7 linked regions of the Homo sapiens genome follow. The protein of the gene in region 4 interacts with the protein of the main gene of each other region in a biochemical or structural test. Each region holds a gene or a part of one and is shown on either strand. Other genes may lie near its edges. The genes, in order: RELN, MYO6, APLP1, DAB1, ITSN1, MAPK14 and CRKL.

Region 1 (3,500 bases), on a different chromosome or scaffold from region 4:
TATAAGGCAGCCCTAAATCACTCAAAATAAAAAACAAAGCTAAGATAATTAGATAGCATTGAATCCCACTAAGAAATAGTTACAAGCGTTCTGAGTTTTCAAAGTAAATGTTTAAAATGCAGGTTATCCTTTAATGCTGAATTAGCTTTCCTTAACAAAATAAAACTTTATGTTGAAAACAAAATAAAATTTTATTATAGCTAGGCACAGTGGCATATGCTTGTGATCCTAGCTACTTTGGAGACTGAGACAGGAGGATCACTTGAGCCCAGGATTTCAAGACCAGCCTGAGCAACGAAGTGAGACCCAGTTTAAAAAGAAAATTATTGATTAAAATACTCTTACATGATAGGAAAGGTGACATGTTATAGATAGCACCGATTATTGATGTCCACTGGTGCCCACAAACCAAGTGACCTGAAAAGGAGTGACAGTAGACCATAAGGACTAAGGTCACCTTAGTCCTCTCTCTCTGCCTTTCCCATCTCCTTCCCACTGTATCTCATCTTCTCTTCCTCTCTCTAAATTTTATCTTTGTCTTTCCTCCTTTGCTTCCTTTGACTCCATGCCATGGTCCTTGCTTTCCCTCTCCTCTTCCTTTCTCCTTTCTGCTTCACCACTTTGTTCTTTTTCTTTTTAAATTCTTTCACTTTCTTCCCTTCAGGTTTCCCCCATTGCCATCTCTACACCTTTTTTCTCTTCTTACTGATAGTAATATGAAAACAAATCAGTACATTTATTATCAACTATTTAGGTCGGTCATAATTCTTGTATCAAGCTCTGAATTGCTGTGGTCCTCCCATAGAATTTCTTCATATCGCTGAATTACATGGAGCTGCAAGGGAGCCATGGAGGTGAGTATTTTTTAACTGGATGCTGAAGATAGACCCGTGTTCATATCTTGCTCTGCCATTTATTGGCGGTATAATTCAGCGATATGAAGTGAAAATCTGTTGATTAGGGTCTTTGGGAAGGTTCTTTTTATTATTATTATTGAGGCAGAGTCTCAGTGTCGCCCAGGCTGGAGTGCAGTGACACCTTTTCGGCTCACTGTAACCTCCACCTCCTGGGTTCAGGCGATTCTCGTGCCGCAGCCTTCTGAATAGCTGGGACTACAGGTGCACACCACTAGACCAGGTAATTTTTGTGTTTTTACTAGAGACAGGGTTTTGCCGTGTTGGCCAGGCTGGTCTTGAACTGTTGACCTCAGATGGTCCACCTGCCTTGGCCTCCCAAAATGCTAGGATAACAGGCATGAGCCACTGCACCCAGTCAGAGTCTTTGGGAAGACTCTTGATAAAACTGATAAAGAATATTTTATAAAAGACTCAGCAGGCACGCACTTTTTGCCCTAACCTTGCCTATTCTAGCTCGGAGATGATACAACCATCTTGTGACCTTGAGGATAATGGCCACATGCCAATGATGGTGGAACAAAACTTTAGAGGGAGCTGGGTCCTCCTTTATATCTTCAGGCAGCTATGCCAGCCCTGAAATAATGACGGGACTTCTTGTATTGTGAGAAAAATTAAGTTGTTTCTGTTACTTGTAGCTGAATGCAATCCTAATTAATATGTATTTCATCTAAACACACAGATGTCCCAGTTAACATTTGCTTTTAGGTCAGTCATAATTCCTGTATCAAGCTCTGAATTGCTCTGATCCTCTCATAGAGTTGGTTTTGGTAACCTTGATAAAACTGAGGTGTTTCCTAGGAAATTTTTGACAATATATTTTCAAAATATCCCTTAAGGTATGCTACTTTTACAGGTGGCAAAGATAGTGCATTTTATGTTAGCTTTTCTAATTATGCTTTGAGAAGGTAACCTGTGCCTGACCTCTTATATACTGATAATTTTTGCTTGTTCGTTTCCTTCACCTAACTTTATTTCCTGACACTATCTCTCTAAAATGCAGTGTCACCATATGTAAATCCTGTTGACATTTAAAACATCTAGACGTGTGACATGGTTGTGAATGTGAGCTCTGCCCCATCCTTAACCTTGTTTGTCACATCTGGCTCAGCCTCTAGGACTATATCCAAGTTTGTCATTCCTTTTGCTTATTACATATTGACATAGGAAACAGACATCTGAGTCTTACCTTCAGGAACATGTAATCTCTTTGTTTGGGTCACCTTTGTTGTGAATGTTGAGATATGTTATGATCATAGTTCCAGTTCTTTTCACATTTCCTTTTCTTTAATAAACACTTCCTGTATTCTCATCCTGCAAATAATGTTATATGTCCAGTGTGTGTGATGGAGGAATATGAGGAAATTGGTTGGTTCTAAGCTCTTAGAAAAAGTGGATTTACACTCCAATTTCAAGCACTAATATTACCTGAAAAAAAAGGCAACTCAAAGACTCCTGAATGAATGAATTATGACAGTGACAATAGCAAACCCTAAAGTAGCACTTAATATGTGCCAGGCACTGAGCTAAATGCTTTACACATATTAATTCATGTAATTTTCACAAAATCCTCATGAGGAAGGTACTGTTATTCTCATTTTATGCGTGCATAAACTGAGTCACAGAGAGGTTAGTGTTTTGCCCAAGATGGCAAAGCTGCTGTGTAGTTCTCCAGAATCCATCCTTTTAGATAGTACGCATTTATTTTTCAAAATGGTGGTTATTTCAGAAAAGGAAAATAATAATAAATAATAAAACTAATCTCAAAAATGAGAAAACAAAGAAAAGTAAAAGCTAATTTTATTATTTAAAATAGAGATTGCAAAATCAAACCAGAAAGCTGATATCTATGCTAAACAAAGCTGGAATTTCGTACCCATAAGTCCATAATTCTTTGACCAGACATTGTCTCCCAGGTAAAGCACAAAGCAATCACCTAGTATACTGTTGGCCTGAAAGAGTTAACATGCCTTCAAAATATAATGACACATAAAAATACAAAAAAAGTGATTTACAACCTTTTTAAAATTTATTTTTAATATTTTGATAATATAATTTTTATTAAGAATTTTTTTTTTTTTTTGGAGACAGAGTTTCGCTCTTGTTGTCCAGGCTGGAGTGCAATGGCATGATCTTCCGTCAACGAAACCTCCGCCTCCTGATTCAAGCAAGTCTCCTGCCTCAGCCTCCTGAGTAGCTGGGATTATAGGCATGCGCCACCACACCCAGCTAATTTTGTATTTTTAGTAGAGACAGGGTTTCTCCATGTTGGTCAGGTTGGTCTCGCACTCCCGACCTCAGGTGATCAGCCCACCTCGGCCTCCCAAAGTGCTGGGATTACAGGTGTGAGCCATCGCGCCTGGCCAAAAAATTTTAAGTAATGAAGAAACGTGTTCTCTCACACACTAATAGAACTTATATAGGATTTGAATATAAGAGAATTGAAAAATGTAGGTGGGGAGGGACATTTTAAAGATATTTATTGAAGTTCATCTATTGTATATTCCTCTCTTTAGGAAATTCCAGTAAATGTTGTTAGTCTGCAGGCACAGCCTGTGAAACTGAATGATGTGGCACACGGTAGAA
Region 2 (3,500 bases), on a different chromosome or scaffold from region 4:
AATAAATGAAGACATAAAGGAACCAACACAGACGCACACACAGTTCTTTAGTGAGTCTTTACAAAGACAGTTGTAACTATCGGATCACTACCAATGCACAAAGTAATAAAAGTTATTTTCAAAATTCCCCCAGAACATTTTTCTCCTTCCTTTTTTTAACTAATTGTTCTTTAAAAATTCTCCAACTAGAAAAGCTAATTACCAATTTCAGTCTAGCAATCTATTTAAAATGTTAAAGTAGTTCCATAATGATGCATCATGCTCATCTTCTATCTTCCATTAAAAAATAACCTGTAACAATTTAATAATCACCATTTTAGTGACCCTAATTTTTCAGAACTTCCTGAACCACCTGACTTGAAGCCATAATGTGAGGTTAAATACATAAGCAATAGGGGGAAAGTGGAGGACTTACTACTTTGGGACTACACAGAGATGATGCTTCTAAGTAGCCACATTGACCTTGAACAAGTTACTTAATTTTAAGTAATGTATTTATTTATTTAGAGACGGGATCTTGCTCTGTCACCCAGACTGGAGTGCAGTGGTGCAATCACAGCTCACTGCAGCCTTGACCTCTTGGGCTCAGGAGATCCTCCAACCTCAGCCTCCTACACAGCTAGCACTATAGGCGTGCACCACCACACCCAGCTAATTTTTGTATAATATTTTTTGTGAAAGGGTTTCACCATGTTGCCCAGGCTGTTCTCAAACTCCTGGGCTAAAGTGATCCTCCCAACCTCAGCCTCCCAAAGTGCTGGGATTACCGGCATGAGCCACCACATGCAGCCAGTATTTTTAATTTTTTGAGTCTCCATTTCCTTACCTGTAGAAAAGGAATAAATTTACTAAATCTACTTCATCAAGTTGTTTTAAGGACCAAATGCATACAAAAATATTTTAAAGCAATAAAATGCCATCCAAATATAAGTTATTAGCTTTTGACGTATATGTCTTTGGATTTCAAATGGATGGTTTCTATTTATTTTTTCATATCTCTGCAACTCTTCCTATTTCCTGGATCCAAAGATATGCCAGCACAGGGAGGAATCAGTTCACACTTGTCATATCTAAAACACAGTGGGCCCTCAGTAAATATCTGTTGAAAAAGATGTTCATCCACATAGATCAGAAATCAAAAAATTCTGCCACAGAAAATATATTACCTTGTAAAGGTTAGTCAGCGGCTTACTTTTTTTTTTTTTTTTTTTTTTTTTTTGAGACGGAGTCTCACTCAATCGTCCAGGCTGGACTGCAGTGGCCCAATCTCAGTGCACTGCAACTTCCACCTGCCAGGTTCAAGTGATTCTCATGCCTTGGCCTCCCAAGTAGCTGGGATTACAGGCACCCACCACCACACCCAGCTAATTTTTGTATTTTTAGTAGAGATGGGGTTTCACCACATTGCCCAGGCTGGTCTGAACTCCTGACCTCAGGTGATCCACCCACCTTGGCCTCCCAAAATGCTGTGATTACAGGTGTGAGCCACCACGCCCCAGCCAGGTTATTTTCAAATGAAATAACAAATGACCTAACATACTCAAAAGATGACTGTGTTTTTGTCAAGAGTTTCCTTTGTGCACATTACTCAGCATCATATTTACCCCATGTGAATATACACTGAAGGAATGTGCTTTGGTGTTTTGGTTTCACTTGAGACATGCCTTCTGTATAAAAAATTATTTCCTCTCTCTTTAGCACCAGCAAGATTTCTAAAGATGCCAGATTTCTTCTTTAGGTTTTACTTTTTATGCTTCAGTACTCACAGGGAAAACTTTTGGTGGACTTATGGTCATTTCTCAAACCATTATGTCATTCTTACACTAATCAATAAGAAAAATAAGCTAATTTTTGAAAACAGTAACTAGAAAGACGTTGCAAAATATTTAAAGATTCTAGTCCACTCAAATTTGTCAAATAAAATCAGAACCATTTTAAATGAAAAGATCCTGGTTCCTCTGAACATTATATAATGCCGGCAAGGCACGGTAGCTCATGCCTGTAATCCCAGTACTTTGGGAGCCCGAGGCAGCACACTATCTGAGCTCAGGAGTTCAAGACCAGCCTGGGCAACATGGCAAAACCCCTCTCCACCAGAAACACAAAAAAGTTAGCCAGGCATGGTGACATACACCTGTGGTCCCAGCTACTCCGGAGACTGAGGTGGGAGTGTCACTTGAGCCTGGGAGATGGAGGTTGCAGTAAGCCGAGATCATGCCACTGCATGTGGCATGAATGAGACTCTGTCTCCAAAAAACATATATATATATATATATATATATACACACACACACACATATATAGATCATAGATACATGCATATAGATATAATGCCTCCAAAAGAGAACTTAAGCTTATTTAACTCTACTTCTTGATGTGTGTGTCACAGATCTATTACCAATTTATATTAGTAATATTACTAATTTATATTAGGTGGTGGTTTTGTATTTACAGTTGAATATGAATATCCTTGAGATGCACAATTCCTAATAGTTCAAAGCAAATAATGAAAAAAATCCGTAATGGTAGCCACCCAACTCAGCCTTCCTACCTTGCTTCTGCTCATTTACCCAACTACATCCTACTGCTGAAATGCATGATTCCTAGTTTGTTACCAGAAAAAATGGGCTTATTTGCTCACTGTTGTCATTTATGTCTATTGCGGCTCAAGGGATATTCCACAGACCATAGAAAAGATTTGTACTAATAGTTTCTAAGTGACAATTTAATCATAATCTAAAAACGAGTCCCCCCTCTCAAGATTAGAGAATTAATTATGTAATATTTAAAGGATAGCTACTGCATAAATAATTATCTTTTTCATTAGAGGAAAATTTTAAAGTTCTATCCCAACCAGGAACATTACAATCTAATTCTAGTTCTCACAAACCTATCAAAGTTAAACACATACATATGTTTAACAGCATACATACATGCACAATACATATAATGTCCTAGAACTATACGAGAAATGAGAAAGCAGCAGCATCAGTGTTCAAGGCTGTCAACTTGAGAATGAAGACACAAACACAGGATTCTAAATTTGTTCCAGAACTACATTCACGGCCTATCATATCTACTCCTGGATGCTTTTGTCAAACCTTGAATTACATTCTTTGACATAATACCAGTTTTGCCGGTTTAAACAGTCCACCAAGTGAACTGAAACCAAGGCAAACTGTTCTGGTGGAAAAAACAGGGGCTTCGTGGTCAAATGACTCAGGTGTGAATCCAGACTTTGCCCTTCTGGAGCAAGCATTTAATTCTTTGAGACTAGACTCCCTCATCTGTAAAAGGACAAGACCATTAGCCTAGAAAATTATTTTGTAGATCAAGCCCCTCAATCTGTGATCTGTCCAATTATGGAAGATGCCTAATAAATGTGCAACAATCTTATACTAGTAAAGGGCCAGTTCACAAATTATTATGAAATATCTCATTATGGGTATCATAATTAAACTCTATGAAACTGCAATCCCAGCACTTTGGGAGGCCAAGGC
Region 3 (3,500 bases), on a different chromosome or scaffold from region 4:
TCCCACAATCCTGGCATCTGGGCCCACTCTTCCTACAGGCCTGCAGCTCCCAGGGCCTCATCCTGCACGGCTCGGGCATGCTCTTACCCTGTGGCTCGGATCGGTTCCGTGGTGTGGAGTATGTGTGCTGTCCCCCTCCAGGGACCCCCGACCCATCTGGGACAGCAGTTGGGTGAGTGGGAGGGAACCCTCCATGCCCATCTCAAGGTTCCTGAGGCAGGGGATGGAAGCCTGGGAGCCCAGGCCTGGGTTCTTACTGCCTGGGTCCTCTCCTGCTCCCTCAGTGACCCCTCCACCCGGTCCTGGCCCCCGGGGAGCAGAGTAGAGGGGGCTGAGGACGAGGAAGAGGAGGAATCCTTCCCACAGCCAGTAGATGATTACTTCGTGGAGCCTCCGCAGGCTGAAGAGGAAGAGGAAACGGTCCCACCCCCAAGCTCCCATACACTTGCAGTGGTCGGCAAAGGTGAGGCAGTCTCTGAACCCCTGGGGCCTCTCCACCATAGAGGGAGAAAGATCTGGGGGAGTCTTGCTGGGGGGTGTCTTTGGGAGGGGCCTATAGGGGAAAGGCCCAACTGAGGAGAAAAGACGAGAGTATCTTTGGATAAAATAGAAGTAGAAGGGCTAACCTGCCAAGGGAGGGGGTGGTTTGGGGGTACTTGGGAGTAGAGGGGCCATTGGGTAGGTCTTGAGGATCATTTCAGGAAAGCTTGGAAGATGGTGTAATGGATTCCTAAGCTTTGCAAGAACAGGCCCAGTCCAGAACTACATCTCCCATAATGCCAGGCAGCAGCGGTGGCTAAACTGGGTGCATGATGGTCTCCAGTGCACTCTAGGAAATGTGGTTCTCTAGGTAGAAAAGGCGACCTGGAGGTGGGCTGCAGACTGACCTCCTGATCCCTGGTCTTGCAGTCACTCCCACCCCGAGGCCCACAGACGGTGTGGATATTTACTTTGGCATGCCTGGGGAAATCAGTGAGCACGAGGGGTTCCTGAGGGCCAAGATGGACCTGGAGGAGCGTAGGATGCGCCAGATTAATGAGGTGATAATACTGGGGGCCCCAGGACCCCCTACAGTACAGAGCTCCCTAAATACCAGGAAATTCCTCCAGGACACATTGATACTACCTCCAAAGGCTCCCTAAGCCCCTTTGACCTTGAGCTCTCAACACCACCCCCTAAGATGGCCAGAGATCCATGGCCCTTCTAGAATCCCACTGAGACGCTACCAGGTTCTCTGGAAACTCTGGTCTATGGTACTCTTTCACTTTATTGGTTTTTTTTTTTTTCTTTTGTTGTTGTTGTTGTGACGGAGTTTCGCTCTTAACACCCAGGCTGGAGTGCAATGGTGCGATCTCGGCCCACTGCAACCTCTGCCTCCCGGGCTCCAGCGATTCCCCTTCCTCAGTCTCCTGAGTAGCTGGGATTACAGGCACCCACCACCACGCCCGGCTAATTTTTGTATTTTTAGTAGAGACAGGGTTTCACCATGTTGGCCAGGATGGTCTTGAACTCCCGGCGGGAGGAGATCCACCCGCCTCGGCCTCCCAAAGTGCTGGGATTACAGGCATGAGCCACCACGCCTGGCCTCTCTTTCACTTTAAACTCCTTCTGGATCTTCCCTCTTGGGAACCCAGGAGCCAGCGAGACTTAAGGGATCTGGGGCCTTTAAATCTTTTTTTTTTTTTTTTTTTGAGACAGAGTTTCGCTCTGTTGCCCAGGCTAGAGTGCAGTGACGTGATCTCCCACTCACTGCAAGCTCCACCTCCTGGGTTCACGCCATTCTCCTGCCTCAGCCTCCCGAGTAGCTGGGACTACTGGTACCCACCACAGCGCCCAGATAATTTTTTCTGTTTTCAGTAGAGACAGGGTTTCACCATGTTAGCCAGGATGGCCTCAATCTCCTGACCTTGTGATCCACCCACCTCGGCCTCCCAAAGTGCTGGGATTACAGGCATGAGCCACTGCGCCCAGCCATGGGGCTTCTAAAATCTTAAAGAGGGGTTGGGGGACTTGCCAGGTGGATCAGGGTGGATTCTGGGATCCTGAAGCTCCCCTCCCTATGCAGGTGATGCGTGAATGGGCCATGGCAGACAACCAGTCCAAGAACCTGCCTAAAGCCGACAGACAGGCCCTGAATGAGGTAGGACAGCCCCAGTGGGTCCTACTCATGCCTGTCCACCACCTGGAGCACACTCAGTTTCACCTGGCTCTGGCTGTGCCCTGCCCATCCAGTTCCACCCCTTCCCACCTATCTCAGCCTTTCCTGGCCCCATGCCTACATGCAGCTCTGCCCCTCTTAGCCGTCATCTGACCTGACACTGCTCTCCTCCCCAGATTGGCCATATTCGGCCCCATCTACAGACTTGACTTGCCTCTCAGGGCTGGCTCTGGAGTCCTGTCCCAAGCCAGGGCCTCTGCAGATGCAGCCAGGGCCTTCTTGGTCTCTCTTTGATGCATTTATGTCTCTATCAGGCCCCGCCCCCTGATTCTGGCTCTGCTGGGCCAATCTCACCTTTATTAACCTGACCTACCCCATGGAGACCCCACTCATGTTAGCCCCCATTCCAGCTCTTTGTCCCACCCCTATCGTGTCATTTATACACAGCCTGTCTCCAGTTTGACCCTGCCCAGGCCAGGAGCCCTGCAAGGCTTTGTCCCTTTCACCTTAACATTGGTCAGTTCTGCTCCCAGATTGCTCCCACTCAATCTTACAGTTTACATCCTCACATTGGCTCCCAGTGGGCCTAGTCCCACCTCCACTCTGCCTGGCCCTGTAGCCCACCCCTTCCAGTCCATAACCTTTGGTTCTGCCCAGGCCTGGACCCCTGGAACGCCCCCCAACCCCATGTAGCCCTGCCTTTCCAGGCTCTCTTTGACCAGGCTTTGACCCATCTTCTCCTCTCCTGACCCTGTGCCCACCCGCTCCCCAGCACTTCCAGTCCATTCTGCAGACTCTGGAGGAGCAGGTGTCTGGTGAGCGACAGCGCCTGGTGGAAACCCACGCCACCCGCGTCATCGCCCTTATCAACGACCAGCGCCGGGCTGCCTTGGAGGGCTTCCTGGCAGCCCTGCAGGCAGATCCGCCTCAGGTGCGGGGACCGTGGGGGCAGAGAGCAGAGGGTGAGAAGGGTCAGGGCGGGCTTGGGCATCCTGTGTCCCTTCCACAGGCGGAGCGTGTCCTGTTGGCCCTGCGGCGCTACCTGCGTGCGGAGCAGAAGGAACAGAGGCACACGCTGCGCCACTACCAGCATGTGGCCGCCGTGGATCCCGAGAAGGCACAGCAGATGCGCTTCCAGGTGCTCACATCCTTCCAGCTCCCAAATGCGCCGCTATTCCTCAGACGCCCGCGCCTCAGGCTCTTCTCTTGTCCCTTAGACCCTCTTTCTGTCTCTTGGACCCCTTCCTATCCCCTGAACACCGCTTCTCTGCCCCTTCCCAGTCTCTCAGCTCAGCTTCCTGACCCTGAAACATGGACCCTCACATGCTGTGTCTTTGACCCC
Region 4 (3,500 bases):
TTCTAACAAATTCCCAGATGCTACTGCTGCTGCTTGTCCAAGGACCATCCTTTGAGAACCACTGCCTTACCTATCAGTGTGGACGAGCTCCTTCCTGAAGTCAGATGTGTGAGAGGAAAGATCAATACGTACAGAGAGAGAATTCAAATATTCAACTGATTCCACTGGAAATAGGAAGAGGAATCCTAAGATTTGACTTCAATATAAGCAGATTCCTGAGGTTTCTTTGGGATACATTCATGGCAGCCAGGCACTTAAGATGTCTCTTTTTCTGTGGTCTCTGTGTAGCTCCAACCCCAGCCCCTAGACAGAGCTCTCCATCCAAATCATCTGCATCCCATGCCAGTGATCCTACCACAGATGACATCTTTGAAGAGGGCTTTGAAAGTCCCAGCAAAAGCGAAGAGCAAGAAGCTGTAAGTGACCAGTTTGTTATTTGTTTGTGTTTTTCCTTAAAATTAAGACCTCTGTAACTGAAATGGATAATGCATGAGGAAGCCTACATAGAAAAGAATGCTGGCTCAATCTCATAAGTTCTCAAGGGGTTGCTAAAGGGGCTTTCTTTTGTGTTCAAATGAGTCAGCTGAAAAGGACTGCCTTTTTATTAAATTGTTACTACAAGTCCACATTTGTGGTGTAGCATCCTCTAAATGCCGTTGCACCCTCCTTTACAATAACTGATTGTGCTGCATGAAAGTATATCCAGGTGTCTTATATTTTCAATGCTTGAAAAGAGAGAAAAAAAAAAGTATTATCTTCTTGTGTTCTAGCCTGATGGATCACAGGCCTCATCCAACAGTGATCCATTTGGTGAGCCCAGTGGGGAGCCCAGTGGTGATAATATAAGTCCACAGGCCGGTAGCTAGATAGCGCAGGTCTGGGTAGGTATCTGTCCTTTTTATCTCCTTTACCCTTAAGCTATCTGCTTTCCCTTTTGGTTGTTCTTCACTTCTGAAGCCACATCCTCAATGTTTGCACCATGTCTCCTTGCCTGAGCTGTATTGCTGATGTTTGCACCATCGCTCCTTCCCTGAACTGTATTCCTGATGTTTGCACTATTTCTTCTTGCCTGAGCTATATCACCAGTGTCTGCACCATGTCCCTTTGCCTGGTGTCTACGTTCTACTTTGCCTTTTCTCATGGATGCATGACCTTTGACATATCCTGGGAGGTAGGGGTAGGGGTGAGAAGTGGGAACTGATCATATTATTTTATTAATAATATGTTCTGCGTGGTTGGTGGTGATAGAATGAGGCATGGTCCATGCTACTTAGCATGCATTTAGTTTCTGGAAGCATCAACATTTTGAGATGGACACATTCTGCCCACCCTGATAATTTCTCAGTGAGCCATGGTCCAGATGCTTTAATCTTTTAAGCAAAATGTCACTGCATTTGCCTACAGTCTGCAGATCTAAAGAGGTCACCAATCAAACACACAGAGAAGCCAGACTAAGAAGCAAAAACAAGCAGTGCTTGAAATAAGATTGATCGAGATGTAAGATCAGAGGAAGCCCTTTTCGTCTAGCCAGAAAGGACCCTGCACCCTGCATCCTTTCTGATGTGAAATTCAAAGCCCAGAGATGTGTAGCACTCACTTCTGAGGCTGTGCTGTTTGCACCTGTGCTGCAGCATGTGGATTGCCACCAAATCACTTCAGATTCCATCAGCAGCTACTTTGAGAGAGATGTACTTACATTTACTAGAAGTGGCTTTTGGCACTTGAATTTCAATACATCTGATTTGATCGAAAGAAAGAGGAGCTGATGAAGCAAACCTTCTTAGGAGACAGAAGTACACCTTGTTACCCAGACATGATTTCTAAGGTCACTTCTTGACAAACGTGTTCAATTTTCAGATACCTTCTTAGTTTTCTATAAACACACAGGACTGCAAGGCCATTCCCAAAAGGCTCCTTTTTTAAGTTCTGAACAGCATGGTCAAAACCATTAAAATGGTAAACAGTTTTCTCCACTCATAAATGGATTCGGAGGCTACCTCATAAATGGATTCTGAGGCTACCTCAGAATTAGTCTTAGCCCACACGTAAGTTAGACAGTTACTGAAAGCTAATATGGTATTTTGAAAGTGTATTTTGTTAACAGGTATTTTTATTAAAGAACCTAACACACTGTGTAGGTTGCCACATTTTGTATCAGTGCAATAGCACATAATAATATGTCATGCCATGCAAAACCACCTACGATTCACTTAGAAGTTCACTCTTGCAAAGCTACTTCGGGAGTTGATATATTGAAAGCAAAGTCAATGTTTCAGGAAAAAGAAAAGTTGGGGACTATAGGCAGACTCCTTGGGATGATTCCCCACGAGGTATTTTACCCCCCGCCTAAGTTGTATTTCACGTGCTCAACCTTGCCTTGAAAAATTTGGTGAATAAACTAGAGGTGACAAGAGCCATTCATCAGGATAACAGCAAACATCATCCTAAAATTGAAGTTCTTCTAGAAAACAAAGATGACTTACACCATTTGCAGATCAATGTATTAAACCCTCATCTTTATGAACCTGTTCAGCTTGAGACAATCCTACAAGCCAAACTGTTTCATGGGGCTTTGGTCTGTTCCACATTTAATGCTCTGTCCAGTACCCCAAGCCACAGCTGAGCTGTAAATGGACATAGCATAGTAGTGTGGGAAGAACTCAGGATTTGGACTTGAGTTTAAATCCTAACTCAGCTACTTAATAGTGGGAAATCTTGGGCAAGAACCAAAATTTGAGTCTTGGTTTCTTCATCTGCTAGAAGGGGCTTATATTCTCCATAATGGTAACTGAGATAGTTTATGTTGAGTATCTAGCGCAGAGACAGACACTGAGTAATCAGCTTAAAATTCAGCTTAAAAAAAATATCTAGGTTCTGGAACAACATTGTTTGAGTTCAGCATCTGGCTCCACCACTTCCTGGCTATGTGACACTGCTGTGATTTTATAATTATTCTCTATCTTATTTTCTTCATTTGAAAAATAAGGATAAAAATAGTGTCCACCTCATAGGGTTATTATGTGAACTAAATAAAGTGATATATGTGAAGCTCTTAGCACTGTGTATAGCACATAGAAAGCACCTAATAGATGCTAGCTACCCTCATCATCACCATCACCATCATCATTATCATCATCATTATCATCATCACATATATCCAATTAATGCACGCTCCCCACTCTCTTGGATTTTATACATTTAGCTTTCATGTATAAGACCATTGGTTGGGAGGTTTTGCTTTGTACTTTGTCTTCAGATAATTAATTTTCAATATGTGTCACAACAGCTTTGGAAGGGAAAAAAAGAAAAAAGCCTGCTGCTTAGCTCTCTGGCTTGCCCCACCCCATAATCAGAATGGCCCTGGTTTGGGCCTCACACAGCTCACTGCCAAAAAATGGGCTGTCTTAGAATCACATGCAAGTCAAAATAAGTACCTCCCAGCTCCAGAGGAGGGCTGGACTGTAATCTTCGGTGAAGTAATTTTCTCCCTTTGAAAGCTT
Region 5 (3,500 bases), on a different chromosome or scaffold from region 4:
CACTTGAGGAAAAAGAGTCACATATTGCTTTCTCATGCTACATTAATTCCAATAATAGGACACTATGAGTGGGTGACCTGGGACCTAAAACGATTGTTTGTCATTGTGCATACCATACGCTACCTACATGAACAATGATGTCCAACATTAACACGCAAATAAAGTCAATGAAGAAAAGACAGGACAGAAAACAAAAAGAGATCGGAATGGTGACCCACACTACCCCATTTACACATTGAATACTTTTCTTTCTACCATGGTAGCATATCTTTCATAAATACACTAAACAAACGGTGTTGGTTATAGAAATAGGAAAGCATGAGTTGCATGTCTATTTATAGATTTAATTTAAAAGTTTCTTAACAACATCAAAAAATATAAACTTAAAGTATTTTAACCATGTTTTCTGCTGGGAAATGGTAAACAAATGCATGCCTGAAGTTAAACTTGGTCTCTAACATGTTCAGTTGAAAGTTTCTAACTACAGGGTATATTTGCTTGTTTCAAAAAATACTTATGTCTGTTGTTCTTGATACAAAATTCTACACTATCTTCAATAAATAAATAATAAAGTATTTCTTAAAAGTATGAAATGTAAACTTTGTTGTCCTTTCCAACACACACTTTTAAAAAAATTGCTTGAAGTATGACCGGGCTCTCATGGGAAATGATAACACTACACATTCAGTTCCCAGCAAAGGAGGTACTCTGCCACAACGCTGATGCTATCATTTAGAAAGCACTTTGATAACCCTAATTAAAGTCTAAGGACCTACAATCAAAGAGAACACCATCTAGTACAGGAAAGCTAGACTCCAGTACCAACAGAACATGCAAAGGACATTTCATGACCACAACAAACTAGGATTATGAGAATATTAACATGCAAACAAAACACGGCCCCCACTTTTCATTAGCAAATCAAGTTACTATCTAACTAACCAGATGATCTCCTGGCATTTAAGGGAAAAAAAAATTAAAGAACTCAAACCAAACAGCTTGGCACATAGTCATAAAGTCCTGACTCTTGCAACAAGCATATTATGTGAGGTTGGGGTGGTGGAGGGTGGAAAAGTGTCTTAGGTCTTTGCCCCGGGATGTGCGGGGCTTGCATCCTCCTAGGGTCTTTCACCCACCACATAATGGACTGCCTTCATTTTCTTTCCCAACCTCCAGCTTGATATTTTTCCTTTTCACGCCTTGGGGATCTAGGACATGGCTTTTTGGGGAACGTACCAAAAAGAGCTGTTGAAATGTCCTACAACAATCAGGATTCAGCACATTCAAGCACAGAACAGGTCACCAGCAACGACTGCTGCTATGAAATATCACAGGCCTCCGAGCCAAAAGAGATTTTTCCAACATGGCTGCCAACCGAGACCCAGTGACCCAACATTGTAAAGTTGCCTTTCCAGTGACCTGTAGTGATCTGATCCAGCAGAGGGGTGACTTTCTAGATAATGACTTTCTGTGACCATATTCTAAGCATGCTGGGAATCAGAACTGAATCCACGCAACAATACACCAGTGTGTTTTCATTGACATATATTAATACAAGGCCTAGAGGGGGAAGGAACGGCTATAACGGTGCACATGCTGGAAACTTCCATAGACCAGCTCTTCAAAGAGCTAAGCCAGGGCCTGATCAGACCGTCTCACCGAGTGATCAGCTCTAGGCAGCATTTCCCTGCAGGAGAGATGGGATTCTGAAGCAATGACAGGACCGTCATAATTGTTTCTAAACTCACACCAAGGACTGGGCATTGTAGGCCAAGAAGTCTACTTGGGGACTGGTGGATGTAAGAAACAGGAGGGTTACATGAGTTCTCCAAAAATATAGACATTGCATTTATAAATCTATTTTATAGTAACCAGACCCATCCCTCAAGCCCGGGAAGGGGCTAGACTCCCAGCTGCACCCTGTTGAGGGCTATGGGATTTCAGCGACCCTAGAAGCCATAATGAGACCTGTAGTGAGGACAAAGGAAAACACAGCTTTGTTTCATGAAACAGGAAATTGTTTCGGGGCAGGGAGGATTGTCGAGAATGATTCCTAGGAGCTTTGAGGGGCCTGTCTTTGCCATCCCATATCCCTGTGACTGAATACCAAATGGTGGTTTCTTAGAAAAGGAATACAATTTCCAGACAGCATGTGTGGCCGTGGGCTGGGACCCTGCTGAGCACACCCTGAGCCCGCTGCCTACGGCTCATCAAACAACTGCAGGTCCAAGCGGACCACAATCTCTCCCGTGGGGACTTCGTGCAGCAGAAGACACTTCGTAACTGGACCTTTGGAGCCCTGGTCTTTCTTGATGTCCGCCACACGGATCTCCGTCCGACCCAAAAAATCTGAAAAGAGAACAAACAGACCCTCCTAAGAGGGACCATTCCCTCTCTTCGAGGCACATGTCTGGCATATTGGGGACCCCCTGATGAACTGTTATGCTCTCCCTTCTTCTCTGGGCTCTGATGTAAACCAACACTAGGATTTCCAACTCGCTCCCCAGCGGAGTTGCCAATGTGTCATGGTATTTCATTACTTAAATAAAAAAAAAAACCCAACCCCAACCTTTATCTCTCAGAATTAGAAGGTGGCCGGGCACAGTGGCTCGCGTCTGTAATCCCAGCACTTTGGGAGGCCGAGGCAGGAGGATCACTTGAGTCCAGGAGTTTGACACCAGCCTGGGCAATAGAGTGAGACCCTGTCTCTACAAAAAATTTTTAAAAATTAGCCTAGCATGGTGGTTCATGCCTGTCATCCCTGCTACTTAGGAGGCTGAGGCAGGAGGATTGCTTGAGCCTGGGAGGTGGAGGCTGCAGTGAGCTGTGATTGCACCACTGTGCTCCAGCCTGAGTGACAGAGCGAGAACAACAAGAAAAAAGATAAATAAATAAAAAAAATAAAAAGAAAAAAGAATTAGAAGTTGACAGTACACATAGTAGTTAAGAGCCCAGACTTGGGAGCCAAACTGTTCCAGTCACACTCAAACATTTAACCAGCTACCACAACGAGTACCTAACTCACAATGAGATAATTCATATAAAAAGTACTAAAAGATGAAGGCCATATGGAGCCATTTAAACCTTGTACAGATAATGCTAGCATTTGACCCTCACTTCTTCGGTTATAATTAAGTTGAGACCATAATCTTTTAACTTACTCTGTGATTTTTTTTTTTTTGGAGACAGGATCTTGCTCTGTTGCCCAGGCTGGAATATAGTGGTACCATCATGGCTCACTGCAGCCTCGACCTCCCAGGCTCAAGCAATCCTCCTGCCTCAGCCTCCCGAGTAGCTGGAACTACAGGTGCATGCCACCATGCCTGGCTAAGTTTTGTATTTTTTTGTAGAGACAAGGTCCCACTATGTTGCCCAGGCTGGTCTTAGACTCCTGGGCTTAAGCGATCCTCCTGCCTCAGCCTCCCAAAGTGTTGGGATTCCAGGCCTGCAGCACCATGCCCACCGGTGATTTTTATTGGGTTGAGGGAGAGACAGGTAGT
Region 6 (3,929 bases), on a different chromosome or scaffold from region 4:
GAGCCCCACAATCCACCCTGGGACACCTGCTGGGTGTCATTCCAAGGACACCAAGAAAGGAAGCACATCAGCAAAGTCCCTGAGAACTCAGCTGTGAGACCCCGTGGCTCTTTCATCCCGTGATGCAATTCAGTCATTCTGAAGAATATTTTCAAGGACCGTAGCCAGCTAAGACAAAACAGAGTCATAAAATACATTCGCCTAAAAGCTTACAAACAATGTACACCTATATATACAAACCAAACCTTCTCTCTGGCAGTTTTATAATAAAAATATATGGCTTATAGATAGTCTCAAATGTCAAAGATGAAAAAAACCTGAACTTCACTTTATAGATGAGAAAACTGTAGCCCTGGGCCAAGGGTCAGCAGACTTCTCTAAAGGGCCAGATGGTAAATGGTTGACATTTTGGAGGTCCTATAGTCTCTGCTGCAACTATTTGCCTCTGTCACTGTAGCACAAAAGCAGCCACAGACAATACATAAACAGATGAGTGCGGCTCTGTTCTCATAAAACTTTATTTATGGATACTGGAATTTAAGTTTTACATTACTTACATCACATGCTACAAAATCTACTACTTCTTTTTTTTTCTTTCCCAACCATTTAAAAATGTAAAAGCCATTCTTAGCAGGCTACACCAAACAGGTGGTGGGCCAGATTTGGCCCTCAGGCCACAGTCTGCTGAGCCCTGTCATTTCGGCCACTCTTACACTCGAGTGTAGATAAGACAGGCCCCAATGCTTAATACTTCGTTCATTTGCTCTTTGCTTTACCCATCCACAGCAAAGACCTGGATACTCTTCACCAAAAAATGTACAACTAAGAAGCTTTATCAACATTTTCTAAATGTTAGGAGTAGTATTAAGATCTGTCAGACAAGTATGCCAGGTCACAGTTTAAAGGATATTGATATAATGCCATATTGTGCATTAAATAAAAACAAGAGAAAAATATAATAAACTTGAGAAACTCACTAAATTTGAAAAATAGGCTTTATTTTAACCAGTGGTATTGTCTGACATCCTATACGGCATAACTGATTACAGCCAAGTTCATGAATACAAATAAAATAGCAATTTCCCTCATTCTCTCTTTTGTTTTCTGTTCAGAGAAATCAGGAGATGGGAGCATTATGCTCAGAAACCGAAGAGCTCTTCCAAGAGCTCCAGCTTAGAGTCCAGGCTTCCAGAGCATGCAGCCTCCTAACACGTATGTGGTCACATGTGCAAAGACCTTTATTACAAAATATTCAGAGCAGTATTTCTGTAGGAAATCACACGAGCATTTACAACCAAACATGGCTGATAAAATTCATCTTGCTGTGGATGGTGAGGATTTGAACTGCAATAAAGGAGATGAGGCCTTTACTTTAAAGGTTCACTTTCCTTGAAAGGGGGAGAGTCCCGGGTGAGAGGGAATCGCCATCAGTCTGCCTCCTTCCTTCTTGCTCCAGTTGACTCAGGGGGTCCACCCTGTCCCTCTGGAGTACATGTATCACTGCACTGATTGAGAAATGGAAACACCTTGGCCCAAATACAAGATTCTGTCACACAGCCAACACTGGAAGTGACTTTATACTTTCTTATTACACAAAAGGCTTAAATATATGAGTCCTCATGTAGAACAAAATGCCTGAAATTCAGCAAGTTATGAAAACGACACTTCTCCACCCCTGAGGATATTTTATCTTTATAAAGTTGAAAATACAAAATATTAAAATAATTTGCCCTTTCTCCCCATCAAAAGGAATCACATTCTCAAAGGATTCCTACAATATACAAAATTCTGAAACAAAATTTATTTCTCCCCAAACCAAGAAGTCAATGTTAAGCTGCCAAGAAGACCCTTTTCCATAGGAGTGGAAAAGACACCTTGTTACTTTTTTATTTTAAAGTAATCATATTTAGAGAAAGACAGCAAAAGGAGTTTCTGGCCTTATGGGCTTTAATTTTTTACTTTGATTTTCAGCATTTCTTAGCATTAGTTATTGGGAGTGAAGAGAATAACTTGTTTCCGAAGTTTGGGATATTCCTGGGAAAAGCCCTGGTCTTTTCCCATGATAATTCCTCAAAAATAGTTGGTTGAAAACAGATGGCATGAATAAAAATGCTATACATCCACCTGTTCCTCTTTTCATGATTTTCACATCAAAAGCACCTGAAGTATCAATTGTGTTCAACACAGAATAGCACTAGGGGCTGAAGAGAGGTGATATCACTTGCCATAATATCAGCTGAGGTGACATGGGATCTAAACTACCCAAGAAGTCTTCACTGGCAAACCTGCCTGACACCAGGGCCTCCTGAAGAGAGCAGGACAAGCAGCTGTGCATGCTCAAATAGCAAGACGTGCAAAACACATCCTCACTCTGCTAGAAATAAAGAGTACACAGGAAGTACATGACATCAAGAACCTGCTTCTGACTACTGGGGCAGATATTCAAGAAACCTCTGCACCAAAGGTGAAGGGTAAGCAGAGAAATGGCAACACCTGGGGGTGAGGGAGAAAGAGAGACGCACATATACGCATGTGCTCACATGCACACATGACCGCCTATGAAGGCTGCCTGATTACTCCGGGCCCACAAGCAGCTGTCCAACAGCCCTCTCGACTTGCCCGGCTCAGAACTTCAGCAGCTGCAGTCTTTTAACTATCTACACTTTCTTCTCTCCTTTTAAGGCACAAACATATTTACAGTTTCAAATATACTGTCAAGATCTGAGAACCATACTAAGCAAGTTAATCACAGGCTAGTGCACAGAAGCCAGTTGGTCCTTTTTGGCTGTACGTATCACTGAGGGACGGTGTCAGGTCTGAAGCAACCAGAAGGTATGGGCCTTCTCTCCGTGCCACTGTGGGATGTTGTCAAGTCTACGCCCCACCGTCAAGGTGGGGTCACAGGAGAAGCCAAAGTGGCAAAAGCATGACCGGGATTGGGGACAATTCATATTTTTTTACTTTGCATTGAACATATTCCTAAAAGGACAGCAGCTCTTGTCTGCCTGAGCCAACTCTCAGAAAGAAGAGCAAGGTGGAGGCTGCCCTGGAGCATCCACAACCTCCTGTAAAGTCACTGTGATCATAGTTTGTTCATATTGTCTTACCCTCCCACAAAGACAGACACACACATGCACACACACTAACACGCACGCACACGCACGCACACCCCCTTCCACCATGGAGGAAATCTCTGCAACAAGAGGCACTTGAATAATATTTGGAGAGTTCCCGTGAAAAGGCCTTCCCCTCACAGTGAAGTGGGATCAACAGAACAGAAACCAGGTGCTCAGGACTCCATCTCTTCTTGGTCAAGGGGTGGTGGCACAAAGCTGATGACTTCATCATAGGTCAGGCCTAGAAATTGGGAAGGAAAAGTAAGATGTGAGAGTTTAGGCTATTCTCTTTGCTGGCAAGCACTCTGACTTCTAAGCTCAAGATCCTTCCTCTCTGTCCAGGTAGTGGTTTGATGGGCTACCTCACAGCTTGTATGTAATAGCCTACTGGAACACGTTATCACACAGAAGTTCAAGGGACATAGAAAAGAACCATTTTTTTTCTCATGTTTTTCATCGCTGAGTGCCTCTTCTTTTAAGCTCTCTACGGAGGTGCTCAAGAATGAAAGAGCACTCTCACAAGCTACAGCAACAGATGGTCTTGGCTCTTGGGATTTAACTAGAGTTCTGAACTTGTGTTTTGTGGAAAGAATATGGGACTGGACACAGGATACATGGGTTCCATTCCTGGCTATGTCCCTAACTAGTTCTAAGTTAACTGATAAGACATAAATTCTCTTTGCCCCAGTTCTACTAATTGTAAAACTGTAAAAGCTCAGAGAGATGTTGTAAATGCAATGACTCTGAAAACCTCAACTCTCCATGCAAAACTCCTATGTGAGGGGCTGTGCATAAAATCAGACCAGACATAAG
Region 7 (3,500 bases), on a different chromosome or scaffold from region 4:
GTCTCAAACTCCTGACCTCAGGTGATCCAATTGCCTCGGCCCCCTAATGTGCTGGGATTACAGGCATGAGCCAGTCACCACGCCCAGCTGGAATTAAGTTTTCTACCTTTTTTTTTTTTTTTTTAACTGTGAAATATTTCATACATAGAAAAGAGTAAGGGTGCCGTGGCTCACGCCTGTAATCTCAGCACATTGGGAAGCCAAGACAGGTGGATCACTTGAGGTCAGGAGTTCGAGACCAGCCTGGCCAACGTGGTGAAACCCTGTCTCTACTAAAAAGACAAAAATTAGCCGGGCGTGGTGGTAGATGCCTGTAATCCCAGCTACTTGGGACGCTGAGGCAGGATAATTGTTTGAACCCGGGAGGTGGAGGTTGCAATGAGTTGAGATCGCACCATTGCACTCCAGTCTGGGTAACAGAGCAAGACTCTGTCTCAAAAAAAAAAAAAAAAAAAAAAAAGGAAAAAGAGTAAGCCTGGGCACGTTGGCTCATGTCTGTAATCCCAGCACTTTGGGAGGCCGAGGGAGGCAGATCACTTGAGGTCAGGAGTTTAAGACCAGCCTGGCCAGCATGTGAAACCCATCTCTGTTAAAAATACAAAATTAGCCCGGCAGTAGTGGGGCCCTGTAATCCCAGCTACTGGGGAGGCTTAGGCACAAGAATAGCTTGAACCCAGGAGGCAGAGGTTTTGGTGAGCTGAGATCACACCACTACACTCCAGCCTGGGCAATAGAGTGAGACTCTGTCTCAAAAAAAAAGTATATGTAAGCTGGGTGTGGTGGCATGCACCTGTAGTCCCAAATAGTGGGGAGGCTGAGGTAGGAGGATTGCTTGAGCCCAGGAGTTCAAGACCAGCCTGGGCAACATAAACCCCCATCTCTGCAAAAAATTAAACAAGGATTGGCTGGGCATGGTGGCTCATGCCTGTAGTCCCAGCTACATGGGAGGCTGAGGTGGGAGGATCACTTGAGCCTGGGAGGTCAAGGCTATAGTGAGCCATGATCGTACTGCTGCACTCCAGCCTGGGCCATAGAGCAAGACGCTATCTCAAAAAAATTTACAAAACAAGCCAAAAAAAACTATCATCTGTGTGCTCCCTTTAAAAAATAAATAAATAAAACATTGGCCAGGCGTGGTGGCCCAGACTGTAATCCCAGGACTTTGGGAGGCTGAGGTGGGAAGATTGCTTGAGCTCAGGAGTTCAAGACCAGCTTAGACAACATGGCAAGACCCTGTTTCTACCAAAAATACAAAAATTAATCGGATGTGGTGGCATGCACCTGTAGTCCCAGCTACACAGAAGGCTGAGGTGGGAGGATCGCTTGAGCCTTGGAGGTTGAGGCTGCAATGAGCCATGATTGTGCCTCTGCACTCTAGCTCGGGCAACAGAACGAGATCCCATCTCAAAAAAAAAAAAAAAAAAAAAAAAAGGAATATTACCAGCACCTTTGAAACTTCCTTTTTCTAGAAGTTGATTGTATTGGTTCTTAGCATGCATAAGGAGATTTTAAGCTTAGAACATATTAGCACTTGGTTTAAAGATGTTTTGTGTATGGTTTATACATGTAGAAACTGAGAACGCTTTTAACCAAAAGAGCTGAGAGATTCGTTATCATCAGAAAAGAAAAGTCAGTTACGAATTAGTTGTTAGGGGCTTTGCTGCTCAAAGTGTGTAGTGGACAATAGGCAAAAAGTGAGAAGCATGGTCAAGGGTGTTTGGATGGGCTTGAAAACCCTGTGCATTTTATTTTATTTTATTTTATTTATTTATTTTTGAGTCGGAGTCTCACTCTGTTACCCAGACTGGAGTGCAGTGGCGCGATCTCGGCTCACTGCAAGCTCTGCCTCCCGGGTTCACACCATTCTCCTGCCTCAGCCTCCCGAGTAGCTGGGACTACAGGCGCCTGCCACCACGCTCAGCTAATTTTTTTGTATTTTTAGTAGAGATGGGGTTTCACTGTGTTAGCCAGGATGGTCTCGATCTCCTGACCTCTTGATCCGCCCGCCTTGGCCTCCCAAAGTGCTGGGATTACAGGCGTGAGCCACTGCACCTGCCTTATCTATTTAATTTTTTGAGACGGAATCTCTGTCTGTCGCCCAGGCTGGAGTGCAGTGGCATGATCTCAGCTCACTGCAACCTCCGCCTCCCGGGTTCAAGCAATTCTCTTGCCTCAGCCTCCCAAGTAGCTGGGCCTACAGGCACACGCCACCACACCTGGCTAATTTTTGTATTTTAATAGTGACAGGGTTTTGTCATGTTGGCCAGGTTGGTCTCAAACTCCTGACCTCATGATCCACCTGCCTCGGCCTTCCAAAGTGCTAGGATTGCAGGCATGAGCCACTGCGCCTGGGCAACACTTTATATTTTAAAGGGAAGTTGGGGGAGGGTGCTATTTTCAACCTTGCTCAAAGAACAAATAATTGGGAAGCAATAAATTTTCTGATGAATATGCTTCATATTTCTTTAGACAGTGGGGTCTAATGGAAAGGCTAAGATATCTGACATGGAGCAACATGTATTTATCTCTTCAGTGGAACTAATGTGTAATTTTCAGGGGAGTTTGATGAATAAATGAGTTTGAGAATATAGGGCAGAGGACTTGGAATTTGTGTCAGGGTTATGGCTGGTGAGATTGATTTGGTGTCAAATTTATGAATATCTCTGCAGATACTAACACAGAAAATGAGCCCCAAGGTCACTATAGCAGTATAGTAGTGGAGGGAAATAGAAACTATCTTTATCAAATTTCTACACAGACATACCCCTCACCAGGGAAGCAAGGAAGTTGAAAAGCACACTTTGCCTCCCTAACCCAGGAATTTAGATGGGGGATCAGCAAACTGTTGAGTAAAGGGTCAGATTTTAAATATTTTCAGCTTTTCCATAGAGTCTCTGTCCAACTACTCAACTATGCCTTTGTAGTGAAAAACAGTCATAGACAATACGTAAATGAATGGGCTTGGCTATCTTCTTTTTTTTGTTTGTTTTTAAGATGGAGTCTTGCTCTGTCACCCAGGCTGGAGTGCAGTGGTGTGATCTCAGCTCATTGCAACCTCTGCCTCCCAGGTTCAAGCAATTCTCTTCCCTCGGCCTCCCAAGTAGCTGGGCCTACAGGCGCACGCCACCACACCTGGCTAACTTTTGTATTTTTAGTAGTGACAGGGTTTTTTGTCATGTTGGCCAGGTTGGTCTTGAACTCCTGACCTCAAGTGATCCTCCCGCCTCGGCCTCCCAGTGTTGGGATTACAGGCGTGAGCCACCACACGCCTGGCTTTTTTTTTTTTTTTTTTTTTTTTTTTTTGAGATAGAGTCTTAACTGTTTCAGGCAGTGACGTGATCTTGGCTCACTGCAAGCTCCGCCTCCCGGGTTTACACCATTCTCCTGCCTCAGCCTCCCGAGTGGCTGGGACTACAGGCGTGTGCCACCACACCTGGCTAATTTTTTGTATTTTTAGTAGAGAGACAGGGTTTCACCGTGTTAGCCAGGATGGTCTCAAT

What was found.
Region 1: of the proteins of DAB1 (region 4) and RELN, one has a biochemical effect on the other in vitro, tested with the Homo sapiens proteins (one study listed by BioGRID).
Region 2: the proteins of DAB1 (region 4) and MYO6 form a complex in vitro, tested with the Homo sapiens proteins (one study listed by BioGRID).
Region 3: the proteins of DAB1 (region 4) and APLP1 form a complex in vitro, tested with the Homo sapiens proteins (one study listed by BioGRID).
Region 5: the proteins of DAB1 (region 4) and ITSN1 form a complex in vitro, tested with the Homo sapiens proteins (one study listed by BioGRID).
Region 6: the proteins of DAB1 (region 4) and MAPK14 form a complex in vitro, tested with the Homo sapiens proteins (one study listed by BioGRID).
Region 7: the proteins of DAB1 (region 4) and CRKL form a complex in vitro, tested with the Homo sapiens proteins (one study listed by BioGRID).

The regions. Positions count from the first base shown.
Region 1 is NC_000007.14:103,979,659-103,983,158, reverse strand, and holds part of RELN (reelin isoform a precursor), read left to right. Parts: intron 1-3,500. UniProt on the Homo sapiens protein: Extracellular matrix serine protease secreted by pioneer neurons that plays a role in layering of neurons in the cerebral cortex and cerebellum by coordinating cell positioning during neurodevelopment.
Region 2 is NC_000006.12:75,752,239-75,755,738, reverse strand, and holds part of MYO6 (unconventional myosin-VI), read right to left. Parts: intron 1-3,500. UniProt on the Homo sapiens protein: Myosins are actin-based motor molecules with ATPase activity. Unconventional myosins serve in intracellular movements. Myosin 6 is a reverse-direction motor protein that moves towards the minus-end of actin filaments.
Region 3 is NC_000019.10:35,871,574-35,875,073, forward strand, and holds part of APLP1 (amyloid beta precursor like protein 1 isoform 1 precursor), read left to right. Parts: intron 1-38; coding exon 39-172; intron 173-284; coding exon 285-463; intron 464-909; coding exon 910-1,040; intron 1,041-2,065; coding exon 2,066-2,140; intron 2,141-2,930; coding exon 2,931-3,089; intron 3,090-3,167; coding exon 3,168-3,296; intron 3,297-3,500. UniProt on the Homo sapiens protein: May play a role in postsynaptic function. The C-terminal gamma-secretase processed fragment, ALID1, activates transcription activation through APBB1 (Fe65) binding. Couples to JIP signal transduction through C-terminal binding.
Region 4 is NC_000001.11:57,008,061-57,011,560, reverse strand, and holds part of DAB1 (disabled homolog 1), read left to right. Parts: exon of another isoform or gene 1-288; coding exon 289-416; exon of another isoform or gene 417-770; coding exon 771-866; 3' UTR 867-881; exon of another isoform or gene 882-3,500. UniProt on the Homo sapiens protein: Signaling adapter of the reelin-mediated signaling pathway, which regulates the migration and differentiation of postmitotic neurons during brain development.
Region 5 is NC_000021.9:33,887,001-33,890,500, reverse strand, and holds part of ITSN1 (intersectin-1), read right to left. Parts: intron 2,350-3,500; coding exon 2,201-2,349; 3' UTR 1-2,200. UniProt on the Homo sapiens protein: Adapter protein that provides a link between the endocytic membrane traffic and the actin assembly machinery. Acts as a guanine nucleotide exchange factor (GEF) for CDC42, and thereby stimulates actin nucleation mediated by WASL and the ARP2/3 complex.
Region 6 is NC_000006.12:36,107,808-36,111,736, reverse strand, and holds the end of MAPK14 (mitogen-activated protein kinase 14), read right to left. Parts: intron 3,358-3,929; coding exon 3,290-3,357; 3' UTR 501-3,289; downstream 1-500. UniProt on the Homo sapiens protein: Serine/threonine kinase which acts as an essential component of the MAP kinase signal transduction pathway.
Region 7 is NC_000022.11:20,927,407-20,930,906, forward strand, and holds part of CRKL (crk-like protein), read left to right. Parts: intron 1-3,500. UniProt on the Homo sapiens protein: May mediate the transduction of intracellular signals.